2 separate regions of the Homo sapiens genome follow, and region 2 is linked to region 1. Evidence: fine-mapped expression QTL. Tissue or cell type: T cells. Region 1 holds a variant in brackets; the other region holds the start of a gene. All regions are shown on one strand. Distances are between the middles of the regions.

Region 1 (8,000 bases):
CGGATCATGAGGTCAGGAGTTCGAGACCAGCCTGGCCAACATGGTGAAACCCCGTCTCTACTAAAAATACAGAAATTAGCTGGGCGTGGTGGCAGGCACCTGTAATCCCAGCTACTCAGGAGGCTGAGGCAGGAGAATCACTTGAACCCAAGACAGGGAGGTTGCAGTGAGCCAAGACTGTGCCATTGCACTCCAGCCTGGGCGACAAGAGTGAAACTCTGTCTCAAAAAAAAGCCAGGGGTCCTGTAGGTAGAATTCAGACATTAGACAGGGAGGGGCTCAGGGGCCTTTCTGATCCCTTCCAGGTCTGAGATTCTGTGGTTCTCAGCAATTTGCCAGTGCCTGACTGGAAGATGGAGGCTGGTTTCGTAACCTGGGGCTTTCAAAGTTCTGAATTCTGGGTGGAGTTGTCTCAAACGGTAGGCTCTCAAAGAACACCTGCATGCAGCCTAACCAGTCCCCAACTCAGTGACTTTCAGACTGAACCTCACTGCTACTTCCAAGCTCCTCTGAAGCTTGCCACATTCCATCGGTATTATCCTAATTCATACGAGCCTCTCATCCTGCCATCTAAAGTATAAGTTACTTGAGAGTAGGGACTATGTCTGTAAAAATACATAGTACGTGGCATTCTAAGGAAAGGTGTAGTGAGCGAGGGCTGCCCTTTAGAGTCACCTGCTCTTCCTGTTTCCCTGGTTGTGTGTCTTCTCACCTGCCTTCCTGCATCCAGCCATGCCCCACTGTGGCCGGAGTAGTCGTGTTCTACAATTTGAATCTAATATATTGCTTCCCTCCTTAAAACTCTTTGGTGCCTCTCCTTTACCTTCAGGAAAATACCCAGACTCCTTAGTCTGGCCCAGAAGACCGTTCATGACTTGGTTCCTACTGATCTCTCCAGTCTTTTTGTGCCACCTCCATTGTCCCAACTCTATGTATTTTAGGCACACTCAACCCCTCACAGGTCCTTGGGTAAACCTCTTCTCTTCTTTCCTTTTCTCTTTTTTTTTTTTTTTTTTGAGACGGAGTCTCACTCTGTCTCCCAGGCTGGTGTGCAGTGGCATGATCTCAGCTCACTGCAACCTCCACCTCCTGGGTTCAAGTGATTCTCCTGTCTCAGCCTCCCGAGTAGCTGGGATTACAGGCATGTGCCACCACACCCAGCTAATTTTTGTATTTTTAATGGAGATGGGGTTTTGTCATGTTGGCCAGGCTGGTCTTAAACCCCTGACCTCGGGTGATCCACCCGCCTCAACCTCCCAAAGTGCTAGGATGACAGGCATGAGCCACTGAGCCCAGCTTCTTTTCTTTTCAGCAGGGCCTCACGCTGTCACCCAGGCTGAAGTGCAGTGGCCCGATCATTGCTCACTGCAGCCTCAACTTCCCAGGCTCAAGCAATCCTCCCACCTCAGCCTCCTGAGTAGCTGGGACTATAGCATGCACCACCATACGTGCCTATTTTTTTTTTTTTTTTTTTTTTTTTTTTTTTGGTAGAGGCAGGGTCTTACCGTGTTTCCCAGGCTAGTCGCAAACTCCTGGACTCAAGTGACTCAAGTGATCCTCCTGCCTCAGCCTCCCAAAGTGCTGGGATTATAGACATGAGCCACCATGCCCTGCCCTTAAAACATTTTTATTGAGATATAATTAACACACCACATAGTTCACCCATTTAAAGCATACAGTACAGCCAGGCATGGTGGCTCCTGTCTATAATCCCAGCTTTTTGGGAGGCCGAGGCAGGAAGGATCATTTGAGGCCAGGAGTTTGAGACCAGCCTGGGCAACATACCAAGACATCATCTCTATTAAAAATAAAAACATTAGCCTTGTGTGGTGTCTCACAACTGTAGTCTTAGCTACTCCAGAGACTAAGGCAGAAGGATCACTTGCGCCCAGGAGTTTGAGATTACAGTGAGCTATAATCATGCCACTGCACTCCAGCCCATAAAACAGAACAGAACAAGACACTGAGAAAAAAAAAAGGGATACAGTGCAGTGATTTTGTGCAATACACTATGGTTTTAGTGATTTACAGAACTGTGCAACCATCACCATGATCTAAGTTTAGAAGGTTTTTAGTATCCCAAAAAGAAACTCCATATCCATTCATAGTCACTCCCTATTTCCCCCTCCCCACAAATCCTAGGCAACCAGTAATCTACTTTCTGTCTGTATAGATTTGCCTATTATGGACATTTCATGTTATTCATTTCATGGTCTCCTGTGACTGGATTCTTTCACTTAGGATAATGTTTTGAAGGTACACCCATGTTGTAGCATGTATCGGTACTTCATTATTATTTCTGGATAATACCTCATTGTATGGATATACCTCATTTTGTTTATCCATTCATCAGTTAGTGGACATTTGGGTTGTGTCCACTTTTGGCTATTATGAATAATGCTGCTGTGAACATGTGTATGTAAGTATTTGTGTACCTGTTTTCAGTTCTTTTATGTATATACTAGGAATATAGTTGCTGGGTCATATGGTAACTATGTTTTGCTTTTTGAGGAACTGCCAAGCTGTTTTCCAAAATGGTTGCATTATTTTACATTCTTGTAAGCAAGGTACCAGAGTTTCAGTTTCTCCGCATCTTTATCAACATTTGTTATTATCTTTCCTTTTTTACTACTGTCATCCTGATAGATGTTAAGTGATATCTCATTGTGGTTTTGATTTGCTGATAGCTAATGATGCTGAGCATCTTTCCCATGTGCTCTCATTGACCGTATGTGTGTTTTCTTTGGAGGAATGCCCATTCAGATCCTTTGCCCATTTTTAATTGGGCTATTTGACTTTTTATTCTTAAATTGTAAGAGTTCTTTCTGTGTTCTGGATACCAGTACCCTATATCTGGTATGTGATTTCCAAGTATTTTCTCCACTCTCTAAGTTGTCTTTTCACTTTCTTTAGGGTATCATTTTTAGCACAAAAGTCTTTAATTCTGATGAAACCCAATTTACCTATTTTTCCTTTGGTCATTTATGCTTTTGGTGTCATATCTAAGAAACTATTGTTTAGTCCCAAGTTTTCTTCTAGTATGTTTATAACATACTACCTCTTACATTTAGGTCTTTGATTCGTTTTGCATTAATTTTTGTATATGGTATATTAGTCCATTTTCACTACTGATAAAGACATACCTAAGACTGGGCAATTTACAGAAGAGGTTTAATTGTAGTTACAACTCCACATGGCAGGGGAAGCCTCACAATCATGGCAGAAGGCAAGGAGGAGCAAGTCACGTCTTACATGAATGGCAGCAGGCAAAAGAGAGAAACTGTGCAGGGAAACTCCCATTTTTAAAACCATCAGATCTCATGAGACCCATTCACTACCACAAGAACGGCACAGGAAAGACCTGCCCCCATGATTCAGTCATCTACCACTGGGTCCTTCCCACAACACATGGGAATTATGGGAGCTACCAGATGAGATTTGGGTGGGGACAAAGAGTCAAACCATATCAGTGTGAGGTCAGGGTCCAAGGTCATCCTTTTGCATGTTGTTCTCCAGTTGTCCCAGGACCATTTGTTGAAAAGAACTTTCCTCTATTTGCTGCATTCTTTCTTTCTTTGCTGCCTAGAGCCTTTCCCTGCCCTTCGCCCTTCTGTTACTCGTATTTTAAGTCAAGTCTCAGCTCAGCGGTTACCCCTTCTAAGAGGCTATCCCTGATCGTCCCTCTGTGTGTGTGAGAGAGCCCCCTCATGCCTTAATCCTGATGTTTATCATTGTAGGATTTCAGCTGTTCATCTTCCCCACTTGTTTTCCAGGCCAGGTCTTGGGAGACAGGGGCTGTGTGCTTAACATCTTACATTACTTAATATGCACTTACATATATTCAACTTCAGGGGGAAGGGGAGATAGTACTTGAATCACAGTGTAATCTTCCATTACCTGTGAACTCTAGATTGTACAGAAAATCCGGTTATAACTTGTAATTCTTTGAGTACATCAGTAATGCACCTTAGGTTTAATGTGAGGAACAGGACTGATAGTTCTCTTCAACCTAAACATCCACTGGTAGACAGGGAAAAGCCCAGCACCCGCTCCCTGCCCCTTCTCCCTGAACCATGGAATGTAAGTCCTTTCATTAGGCTACTGGGCCAATTTTTAGACCTAAGCTCATGGCTGGACCAATAGTAGCCTTCATAGATGCCAATGCCCTTCCTTGATGGGCTTCAGTGAGGACTCCTGACCAATCACTGACGAGGGGGGTTGGGAGGACTTCTGATGGGGGAGTTGGCCTCCCTGGTCCTACACCTACCTGCCTGGAGAAGGAGCCAAAGCCACTTAAGCAAAACTGAGCAGCAGCCCACAGTGTCCATCTACCATGTCACCCCAGTGCTGAGCGATTTCTAAAAGGTTACTTTTTTCAATTATTTAAAAAAAACACCAAAAATTCAAGTAATACGGAAATAAGTAAAGGAGAAAGTCCCCTGTAATTTTTCATAGAGAAAGAGGAAGGAATGGGGGGCAGCTGTGTAAGTCAAACATGTTTGTAAAACTCCGTGAGTTTGAAACTAGTAAAATAGAAAGTGAAAGCCTGCTATAATTATGGTGGAATTGAGGGTGTCTTATTGTGTTACTAGAGAATTTTTTTAAGTAGGTTTTTAACATTTTGACCTTGTTAAAATGCTCCACTTTTCAAAACGGTCCTG[A/T]CAGGATATCCTGCTTCCTTCCACGCAGAAGAGGTGGTTTGTGCAGAAGTGCAGGCCTCAGAATGCTTTGCACATGAGAGGAATGGCAAGAGTTGCCTATCACTGAGGATTTGGGGAGGAGGGATCACAGGATATGGGACTGAAAATGAGACAGGGCCAGATAGCAAAAGGCCTTGAATGCTACACTAAGCACGAAGCAGCTCCTTAATTTGTGCATCACTGAAGCAAGAATAGAGTGGAGGACATGGCCCGTGTGGTCCTCGTGTTCTGAGTGGCTATGACATGGAGTTCTGTGTGAGCTCTCCATGAAGAAAATCCCGTCTCCAGGCAGTCAGTGGAGATTTGATCCTTACCACAAGAGCACGTGGACAAATTTGAATTATCGTGGATGTATATGGGCAGAAGAAGGTCTCAGAGCCATAAGGGTGGGGCCCTGTTAGCTCTGTTGGTTCCACTCAGCAGCCCACAGTGTGAGTGGGACCCTGCCAGCCCTGCTAGACTTGAGCATTGTCTGGTGACGCTGGTCCCCGCCTTCATTACTGCAGCAGAGGAAGTGTGGCTGTGGCAGTTGTGGGTTTTGTATTTTCTATTTAAATATGTCCCTTAATGTGCCAGTTGTTAAAAAGACTACCAGTGGGCTCTGAAGGGATGCCTGGACACTTTGAAAGTGTGGTTCAGATGTGAAATTGCACTCAAAAGATGTTTTAAGAGAGACGAGGGCACGTTGATGTCAGTTTCGGTTTGGGCTGTGTAGTAGCAGCATTTTGAACTTGGCCCTCTCTCCTTTCTGAGAGCTAAAGACCTTATCTCCCTGCGGATGGCATTGCGTGCAGTTAATTATGGCCAGATGGACTCAGCCGCTTCTTCATCGTCTTCTCTCGGACTCTGCAGACCTACACCGTGCCTTTAAAGGAAGCAGGGCCCTCCCTGCTGAAGCATTCAGTGAGCCCAGGCACCAGCATCTTCAAACCGAGTCTTTTCTCTCCTTAGTGCTGCTCCCCGCTTTCCAGGCCTTCCTGGGATATCTTAGAGGTAAGAAAACTGAAGCCTCGACCTAGGGAGAAATGCTTTAACAAAGACGACGCTGCTAGTTAAATCAATCTAGAACTGAGTCCAGCCTCCAGATCTCCTGATTATTTTTTTTTCTAACAGTTGATGGGATGAAATCTACATAAGATTTAATCCTTTGAAGCCCATTGTTTGATGAGTATTAAAAACTTATGCAGCCACGCCTCTGTCACCACAATCCCGCTTTAGCACATTCCCATGGCCCAAGCGAGTTCCCCGGAGCCCCTCTGCAGTCAGTCCCCACCCTCAACCCCACCCCAGGCTTCCACCAACTGGTTGAGTTTATAGTGTAGTGTTATTTCCATGACTTGGTTATTTAAATTTTTTTCTGCTTCTAACTGGGTAAGAGTTATAACTTAAATGTGAGTAAAATATGTCAATAACGTGACCCTCAGTTATTGTCCTTGTGTGATATCATACAAGTCTCCACACATGCCAGGTACTGGGCAAAATGCTTAGGGCATCAGAGCAACCTGCGAAGAAGCGACCAGCACCAGAGTTTACAGGTGTGGGAAATGAAAGTTCCACAAGGTCACTGATGCCCCCAGATCACGTGATCCATGGCAGAATTGAGCTCCTTCCCACATCTCATTAATGCCAGACACAAGTTTTCTTTCAATCTGAATGCTCTGCCCTGTTCCGGATTTTTAAAAAATAATAAGTGCAATAGAACATTGCCTTTTACTAAGAATTATGCCACTTACTTGTATTTCTGAGAAGGGTTGTCCTTAAGATTTCAGAGTGGAAATGAAAGTGGGGATTTTGCTGAGGAAAATTACTTTGATTGTTTTTAATACCTTTCTGTGAATTTCACATGATGTTTTTATGGCACACTGCCACAGCATTAACAATTGGCACTACCAGATGTCTACTTTGTCTTAATTGTGGGCAACCTGCAAGCGCAGCCTGGAAGATGTTAAAAACTGAAACCTTTATTTTTGTCCCTGGATATAAGACGAACGGGAGTTCTTGTATTTTACGAGAGAGTCACCAGCTCCTGGCTTCCAGTGAGCCTCATCTGGATGAATGCCACCCAGGCCCCAGCTGACGCCTCTGAGGCCTTCCTGGGAGCTCTGGAGTCCTCACAGCCTAGTCACACTGCTTCCTCTCTTCATTGCAGCTCCTGAAGGTGCGGCACTCGCCTTGAGGCACTTTCTTCTGAGCTGTGAGCTATGGGCAAGCAGTGGAGGGGGAAGAGAGCAGCTGAAGCAGATGCCGGTTCAACTTACTTAAAGATGTGGGACAAGCTCTGAGGAAGCCCCCAAGACAATGATGTCTGGTTGTGCACCATTGAAGCAAGAACAGAAACCATCCCAGAGTGGAGGACATGGCCCATGTGGTCCTCCTGTTCTGAGTGGCTATGAGATGGAGTTCTGTGTGAGCTCTCTACAGAAAAAGCCCTGTCTCCAGGCAATCAGTGGAGATCTGTTAAACGAGTTGAAACAAAAGAGGACAAGGAATTGCTGTGGCTTTAGACGTTGCCAGGACATGTAGAAACTCACTCAGGATTTACTACTGCATCCACTGTCACTTAGGCGCAGGAGGGGTCACAGTCAGAAGGTGACTACTGAGAAATGTGCCCTACCCACAGTCTAGAAAATTAAGTTTGGGCTGGGCGTGGTGGCTCACATCTATAATCCCAGAACTTTGGAAGGTGGAGGCAGGTGGATCACTAGGTCAGGAGTTTGAGACCAGCCTGACCAACATGGTGAAACCCCGTCTGTACTGAAAATACAAAAAGTAGCCGGGTGTGTCAGTGCACGCCTGTAATCCCAGCTACTCAGGAACCTGAGGCAGGAGAATGGCTTGAAACTGGGAGGCAGAGGTTGCAGTGAGCTGAAATTGCGCCACTGCACTCCAGCCTGGGTGACAGAGCGAGACTCTGTCTCAAAAAAAAAAAAAGAAAAAAAAAGAAGAAAATTAAGTTTGAAACCTGAAATTAACCTCTTGGTGAGAATGGAAATGGAATGAAATTTCACTCCTTTCCAGATGCAGCTTCTGAAGAGGAGACCTGGCAGCCTGGCGAGCATCCAGCTCGCTCACGCACCTCTTTCTAGTCCCGTGGCCATCAGTGAGCTTCTCCGGGTCCCTCTTGCCACTTCTCAGATGTTCCTTTCTGTCCTAGGAGATTTGTAAAACCAGATACTTAGGATATGATTCTCTAGTGGAGGGTTAGGCCTTTAGGTCTCTAAAAATTGCCATTCATGACCTTCGGGCCTAGGGTTTTGAGATGAATGTGCAGTGTGTGTGGCCGCTCTGTGTGTCCCGCTT
Region 2 (8,168 bases), 34 kb before region 1:
TAGGTACTTTCCTCCTGGACCCTTCTCTGCCTTCCAGCCTCATTTCATCATTGCAACTTGTGTTGCATAAGTAGGTACATAGCGAATCAGTTGGGGCATCTGGGGTTGGCTAGTTGAAACCACAGAGGAACTTACTATCTCATACAGGTGAAATGTACGGAGGCAAGATGGACTTCAGGACTGGTTTGATTTAGTGACTCAAAAATGTCATAAAGGAAATGGTTTCTTTCTAACCGTGGTCTTCTGCTTCCCACAGCATTACTTTCTTCCTAAAATAAGCTCTTCTTGTAGTCCAAGATGTCTGTCTTACCAACAGCTTCTGAGGCTACTTACTGCCTAGTTCTTGTCTAGCAGAACATGAAAGCATCTCTCCCCCAGCATCCAATAAATTCCTGAGACTTCCTCTGATTGGATCAGTGTGGTTCCTGTGGCTACCCATGAACCATTCCTAGTGGCAAGGAGGATGGGGCAATGGGGCTATCTGGGTGGCTGAGACCAGTAAGTCTCAAACTCTGGTCTCAGGATCAATTTACACACCTAGAAATTACTGAGGATCCCAAAGAATCTTTTTGACATGGTCTTTCTCTTGATATTTGCCAAATTAAAAATTAAAACTGAGAAATTTTTAAATATTTAATTTAATTTAAATATTTAAATTTTAAAATATTTATTAAGTCATTAAAATAATAAATCTGGCTGGGCATTGTGGTTCACACCTATAATCCCAGCACTTTGGGAGGCTGAGGAGGGTGGATCACCTGAGGTCCGGAGTTCTTGACCAGCCTGGCCAACATGGTGAAACCCCATCTGTACTAAAAATACAAATATTAGCTGGGCATGGTGGTACGTGCCTGTAATCCCAGCTACTTCTGGAGGCTAAGGCAGGAGAATCACCTGAACCTGGGAGGTGGAGGTTGCAGTGAGCCATGATTGTACCATTGCACTCCAGCCTGGGTGGCAGAGCAAGACTCTGTCTCAAGTAAAAAATAAATAAATAAAATAATAATAATAATAAATCCATTGCATGTTAATATATATTGATAAAAAATAACTTCTTTTTTTTAGACAGAGTTTCGCTCTGTCACCCAGGCTAGAGTGCACTAGCGTGATCTCGGCTCACTGCAACCTCTGCCTCCTGGGTTCAAGCAATTTTCCTGCCTCAGCCTCCTGAGTAGCTGGGATTACAGGCACATGCCACCATGCCCAGCTAATTTTTTGTACTTTTAGCAGAGACAGGGTTTCACCATGTTGTCCAGGCTGGTCTCAAACTCCTGACCTCAAGTAATCTGCCCACCTCGGCTTCCCAAAGTGCTGGGATCACAGGTGCGAGCCACCATGCCCAGCCAAAAAATAACTGGTTTTGGCTGCATGCAGTGGCTCACATCTGTGATCCCAGCACTTTGGGAGGCCCAGGCAGGAGGAACACTTGAGCCTAGGAGTTTGAGGCCAGCCTGGGCAACAGAGGGAGACTGCTGTCTCTACAAAAAATTAGAAATTAGCCTGGCATGGTGTTGGGTACCTGTAGTTCCAGCTACTTGGGAGGCTGAGGTAGGAGGATTGCTTGAGCCCAGGAGGTGGAGGTTGCAGTGAGCCAAGATCGTGCCACTGCACTCCAGCTTGGATGACAGAGTGAATCTGTCTCTAAAAAAGAAAAAAAAAAAAACGCTGCTGTCCTGGATTTGTAAGTAGCCTGAGTGACTCTTTGCTAGTCACTATTCAGAAGCTTCTCTGAGATCAGCCACTGACTTGGAGAGATAACAGTAAGGCTTTGAGATCTAGAGGCTGATCTTAGTCTGCTGTTTGGAGATCTCTGCCTTAATCCAGAATAATAGCTGAGGATGTCTCTGTGGCTGATGAAGAAAAGGAAGTTTGCAGGCCTGCTTGTCTTGCTGCCCAAGTGGGTCAACCTAATGTGAGTGGAGTGAATGAGGTAGTAAGGGCTTAACAGATGTCTTGTGATTCTGGGACAGGAGGCAGCTTCAAGTTCCTTTTCTTCCTCACCCCCACCTTACACCCATCCTTGGAAGCTGGGATACTGCTGACTCTCATGGCAGCCATAACGCTATCAGCGCCTGGCTTTGCCGACAAGGGGAATCTGGAAGAGAAGGGGAAGGACAGGGGAGACAAAGAGAGGTAAAGAGTGTTGCATCAAGCACATGTGTCAGAAGTGTTCAAACCAGAGCGCCTCCATTTTGAGTGAGGGCTAGAAAAATGAGGCTGGGACTTGCTAGGCTGCATTTCCTGAAAGCTAGGCATTCCTAGCCTCTAGGTGTTTATGGTTAAGAGAACAAATTAATAATGCTTACTAAACAGACCCAGACTTGAGAGAGTCCAGATATCCCGATATCTGGAGAACAAAGGCATTCCTAATTTTGCTTTAAAAATAATAATATTGATTATTGCAAAATATAGTAATTAGGGAAAATTAATCCTTTATCACAAACCCTTGTAGCAGAAGACATCTGCCCATATATACAAGCATTACAAGCATTGTACCTTAGTTGGATATGTCCCTCCTCTTATTTTCAGGAATGCCCTGCTGGAGTGCAGTGGCGATCTCGGCTCACTGTAGCCTCTGCCTCCCGGGTTCAAGCGATTCTCCTGCCTCAGCCCCGTGAGTAGCTGAGACAACAGGCTTGCGCCACCACGCCCGGCCAATATTTGTATTTCTAGTAGAGACGGGGTTTTGCCATGTTGGCCAGCTGGTCTTGAACTCCTGACATCAGGTGATCTGTCCGTCTCAGCCTCCCAAAGTGCTGGGATTACGCGTGAGCCACTGTGCCCAGCCACCACTTTACTTTCTTAATAAACTTGCTTTTACTTTGCACTGTGGACTTACTCTGAATTGTTTCTTGCGTGAGATCGAAGAACCCTCTCTTGGGGTCTAGATCGGGACCCCTTTCCTGTAACACATGGGCCTTGGGCTGATCTCCAAGATTAAGAGGGCAAGATACTCAGCTGCAAGGGTCAGCTGTCGCTGACCCCAGCAGCTGCTCTGCCTTGGCCAACTTACCGGATTTAAATCGCCCAGTGACAGCTTTTCCTCCAGTATTTTCAAAATGCTCCCAATATCCTCACGTTAGAACAATCCAGAAATAGTCTTATGGTAAAACTCTTTTGGGAAATGTGAAAGTAGAGTCCTCCCACCTTTTCCTTTGCAACGCTTTTGCCCCAACCTCGATCGCCCAGGCAGCACATTTTTTCCGGCACCCCCACCAAGGGAAGAACAGAGACATCTCCAAACCAGCTGCCCTGCGCCAAGCTGTTACAAAATAGAGCCACAAGTCTCCCGGTTTATGCAAACATATTTGGCTCGGTGTCTAGGATCTTCTTTTTCAAACTCAGAAGGAGATCACAGGCACACGGCCGCGGTGCTGTGTACGCCCCTCTGAAAGGAAGTTCTGCAAGTCGACCGACTTCACTGGCTTCACTGAAGTCCGGTCCGAAACCACCGGAAAGTTGCAGGCGCACAGTATACGTTCAGCTGTGTCCAAGAAATAACCTATCAATCACTGCCTTAAGCTTTGTTTCCTTCCTGAATTTTCTTATTTTCACGAATATTTATGCTTTCACAAACTGTATGTCATTTCCTCTCCAGAACCAAGGGGGGCTCGCCCCAGCCTGGCCCCCGCCCCGGGTGCGTCCCTGCAGGGGGCGCCCTGCTCTGGCAATGCCCACCGCACCGCAGGGCTGACTGGCCGCGCGCCCGGGGGCGGGGGCCGCCGCGGAGGCATCGTGCTCTCCGATTGGCCGTCCGCGTCCTCGTGACGTCAGACCCCGCCCACGCGCCCCTCCTCCGCATCTGAGCGGGGGAGCGGCGGCCCCCAGCTGAATGGGCGCGAGAGCGGCGCTGGGGGCGGGTGGGGGCGCGGGGTACCGGGCTGGCGGCCGGCCGGCGCCCCCTCATTAGTATGCGGACGAAGGCGGCGGGCTGCGCGGAGCGGCGTCCCCTGCAGCCGCGGACCGAGGCAGCGGCGGCACCTGCCGGCCGAGGTACGTGGCGCAGCCCCCTCCTCGGCGTCGCGGGGGCCCGCGGGCTGGGGGCTGCGGCGGCGACTTGTCTCTTCCCGGGCCGGCTGGGCGCGGCGTTTCCGCCTCGAACCCCGCGGGCAGCGCCCAGGGCACGACACCCTCAGGCGAGCCCGGCTGGGGCGCGGGCGGAGGGTCGTGGTCCCGGGCCGTGTGGACCGGGCGGGGGGTCCCACGCAGGTGTGTACGCGGTAGAGGGTGGGGCGGACCGCCGGGTGTCGGGTCCCGCCGCAGTGGCCCTTTCCCCGCCGCTTTCCGCTGCAGCTCGGGATTTAATTCATTGCTGGAAGCTTCGGAGTTAGCAGAGCCGAGTTAACTCGTTTTCCTGGGATGGGCTTAGGGAACCCCCTGCAAGGTTACTAGCAGCTCCTGAAACCTCTCTCTGCATCCATCGGGGAGGCGTGATGTGGGGCCGCTGGTAGAAATTTGCCGGTGACCTTCCCTGCACCCTCTCTGCAGCCAGCCTTGCGGAGAAGACAGGTTTTGGCGACCTTTTGATTTCTTCTGAATTGTAAGCCGTGGCTTGACGCGGGTGTGCATTCATTGTACGCCTTGCGTGTGTAAGTAACGCAGGGTTTTCCGAGAGCATCCCCGAGGAGCCCTGCCCTTGCCTCACACCCGCTTGGTGACCTTGGCAGACACTGATCCCCCTGTGGGGCTCGGGCTCATGGTCTCTCCTGAGAAGCTTACCCTGCCGATGGCCGAGGTCCCTTCCAGGCCCCGGGTTTTTCTAATCATAAAAAAATACGTTTACGAGGGTAGAGGATCCTGCAGAATCTCTAGCTGACTCGGAAGACGAATTTTATATCCTCATGTCTTAAGTCATGCATGCGGCTTTTGCTTAATTAGGCATCGTTCATTTGAAGGGGAAAATGGTTTTATGTGCTGCGCTTCATCTGGCACCAGTGGTTGCCTGCTCCTCGTGGCAGGGCCGTGCTGGGTGTCACAGAGAGGAAGGAGACTCATCTCCTGCCCTCTGGTGTTTAGCTGCCCTCCCCCGGGCTTATGGCTGCTAATCCTTTTCCACGGAAGGATACAGCTGCTGAAACTGTGGAAGAGGAATCCATTTCTGCTGCATGAAGGGGCACAGACTTGAATACAGTCAGGACAGGTTGTGGTTTCACTTGTGTAATCCTGAGAGCTTGACAGCTTCGAGGAGTGTCTAACATTGCTAGTAACAGAGCCTAGAAGCACCTGAATTCCAGCTGTCACTTGGAGAAGGAGAGATTCATACGAACTGCGAGAGCATATAACCAGCATGTCTTGAGTCTTTTACCCATGTGCCTGTTATATGGATGCTGCTGTTTTTGTAAGATGAAATGACCCTTGGATATTCTGGGTTATGATCAGCATTTCTTCGTCTAGGCGAGAAAAGAAACAGGTGAGATAGGAAGGCATGAAGGGGCTCATGGAAGAGAGAGGGCTGACAGGCAGAAATTTTGAGAGCTCACATTTACGACTATTTGGACAGTTCTTATAATTTTGGCATAAATTGTAAATTGTTGCATGTTATCAAAATAGATTGGTGATGAACGTTAAGGATATATCCGTGGCAGAATAAGAACACACTCTTTGTTCTTTGGTTTGCTCCTCTAGTTCTTCCCTGCTTGCCTTGTGGGACTATTTGCAGCAATGAGGGGAATTTATCTAGCAGGTTGGCCTCGGGAGGCAATGAATGAAAAGAGGTTGGTGAGTCCTCTGTGGGAGTCCATTCCAGGTCCTGGAGGGCTGAGGTGGGTGTCTTGGAGCCAGCAGTTTCTGGGAGAAGGGATAAAGCTCACCTTCCACACCCTCCTGGCTCCTGAGGAGCGATTTAATCCGCACTGCCTGTGGACACGATGGAGGACTGAGATCACTCCCGAAGGGCATGCTCCGTGGTTTTAGTCTGCTGGGAAGCTCTGGCAGAAGTAAAACAACTGGGAATATACACATGTTAATGATGCTCCAAGCTGCCTAACTGCTGAGGAAGGAAAAGCAAGGGCTGGATCAGTGTGGGTGGCATAAGTTAGCAAAGGCATCCAAAGTGGGGTGAATCACAGGCCTGGTGTGGGAGGAAACCATAAATATGACGGTGACACGCAGGCTCGCCCGGGAGACAGCCAGCTTAAGCACACGTGCAGAGGAGAAGCAAGTGAAATGCGTAAGGGAGCAGGAGAAAAATCAGCTTTGAGGCTTCAAGGACACTACCAGGCTTGTCTTACCTGGACACCAGACAGACAAAACTTTTTTTTCCTCTTTTTTTTTTAAGTATAGCATAGATACTAGGAAAGTAGACATACCATAAGTGTCCTGCTCAATGAATTTTCCAGACTGAACATGCCCATGCACTCAGCACTTAGATCAACAAACAGAACTGGCCGGGACCCTGGGAGCTCCCCTTGTGTTGTACTCCAGTCGCGGCCTCCCCCAGGATCAGCCTTGAACTCCTGGAGTCAAGCAATCCTCCTGCCTTAGCCTCCTCAGTAGCTGAGACTACGGGCACACACCACCAGACCCAGCTAATTTGTTTTATTTTATTTTGTAGAGACGGCTCCCACTGTGTTGTCCAGGCTGGTCTCTGGCAACTCCTAGCCTCAAACTATTCTCCCACATTGCCCTCCCAAAGCGCTGAGATTACAGGCGTGAGCAATTGCGCCTGGCTGGCTAGTGTATGCCTTCTTTCCTTAAGCATTGAGTTTCTGAGAATCACTCATGATGCTGCCCATGGTTGAAGCATGTTCACTCTCATTGGTGATAGGGGCCATTGGGTGAATATACCACATAGTCACGCATTGTTAGTGGACATTTGGGCAGTTTGCAGCATTTGTCTGTTACAGAAAGTGCCGCTGTGACCACTCTAGTGTCTGGCTTTGGTACATATGTGTCTGCATTTCTGATAGGTCCATACCTAGGCATGGTATTGCTGTTTTAGGAGCCACAGGCACAGCTATTTTACTCCAGTTTTTTTTTTCTTTTTTTTTTTTTTGAGACAGAGTCTCGCCGTCGCCCAGGCTGGAGTGCAGTGGCACGATCTCAGTTCACTGCAGGCTCCGCCTCCGGGGTTCACGCCATTCTGCCTCAGCTTCCCGAGTAGCTGGGACTACAGGCGCCTGCCACCTCGCCCGGCTAATTTTTTGTATTTTTAGTAGAGACAGGGTTTCACTGTGTTAGCCAGGATGGTCTCGATTTCCTGACCTCGTGATCCGCCCACCTCGGCCTCCCAAAGTGCTGGGATTACAGGCGTGAGCCACCGCGCCCGACCTTATTCCAGTTTTGAAATGATCACACTGGTAGTTCCTCACTGTTCGCTGATGAGGGCCACAGTTCTAAGGAGACTGGGGAAGGAATCAGGAGTCCTTCTGGCAGTCAGGATCAGTTTCTACCTGGCTGTGTATGGTGCCAGCAAGTGTGGTCACCTATAGGCCCCAGTCTCCCAGTGGGTCAGGCAGCAGGGCAAGGTGAGCTGTGAGGAACCCTTAGCTCCCCAAGAGCCTCTGACCTAAGGGAAGTGTTTCTCTGGTGAAACTGCCTGGCTTGGTCTCAACTCCCACCCTTGTTGCTGCAAACAAACCACTCCTCTCTGAGCTCTCATAATACTGCACTTCCTATACTTTATGTCTACTTCTGTGGCCTGCTTTCTCTGCATTTCTGCTAAAAATTATCCGTGACCTAGAGGAAAAGCCCATTTCTTATTTGGGTTTTTGAGGCCATGTAAGACATTTTTGTTGTCCCGTTATTACAGCATGGAAAAATGTTCAGGATTAAGTTATTGGATGGTTCACCAAGTCCTGTACCCATGAATTCTTTCCTTTTTTCCTTCAATTTTTAACATCTGGGATTATAACAGTTAAGTATCATGTGATAGGATAGGATCAGTTTGATAAAAATAACAGATTAGAAAGGTCTGCTTTGGTGGAATAGTACTTCTGTCTTTTGACTGTTAAGGCTGTTTTTAAGACCATCTCTTTTTCATAATTCAGAGCTTATGTGTATTGAGTTCTGAGCAGGGGCAGTTTTTCTGTTACACGTGTCGTTTCTTCCTCAGCCTTCCTCTCTCCTCCTCAGCCTCTGTGTTTTTATCCTCTTCTGCCCTGTTCTTCACCCCCTTTTTGCTTTTCATAAACATCTTATTCTCATCTCTAATCTATACTCTAGCAGAA

The links. PIP is the estimated chance that this variant, and not a neighbour inherited with it, causes the effect.
Region 2: ST3GAL5 starts here. The variant in region 1 is fine-mapped to the expression of ST3GAL5 in T cells (TOPMed, PIP 0.92).

The regions. Positions count from the first base shown.
Region 1 is chr2:85,850,553-85,858,552 of GRCh38, reverse strand. All of the region lies in intron 3 of ST3GAL5 (ST3 beta-galactoside alpha-2,3-sialyltransferase 5), which reads left to right. Among named protein-coding and RNA genes, the nearest start is that of ST3GAL5, 34 kb to the left of the region's middle. RefSeq lists enhancers at 4,357-4,486, 4,857-4,956, 4,967-5,106. The variant A/T (reference allele first, on the strand shown) is at 4,662.
Region 2 is chr2:85,884,649-85,892,816 of GRCh38, reverse strand. It overlaps ST3GAL5 (ST3 beta-galactoside alpha-2,3-sialyltransferase 5), which reads left to right and starts at 3,827. Exons shown (of 7, transcript NM_003896.4): 1 at 3,827-3,993. The coding sequence starts at 3,912. It overlaps ST3GAL5-AS1 (ST3GAL5 antisense RNA 1), which reads right to left and starts at 3,537. Exons shown (of 3, transcript NR_110569.1): 1 at 3,014-3,537; 2 at 1,612-1,641; 3 at 565-1,126. RefSeq lists silencers at 3,426-4,045, 4,086-4,205 and enhancers at 4,376-4,455, 4,147-4,647, 4,986-5,115, 5,126-5,245.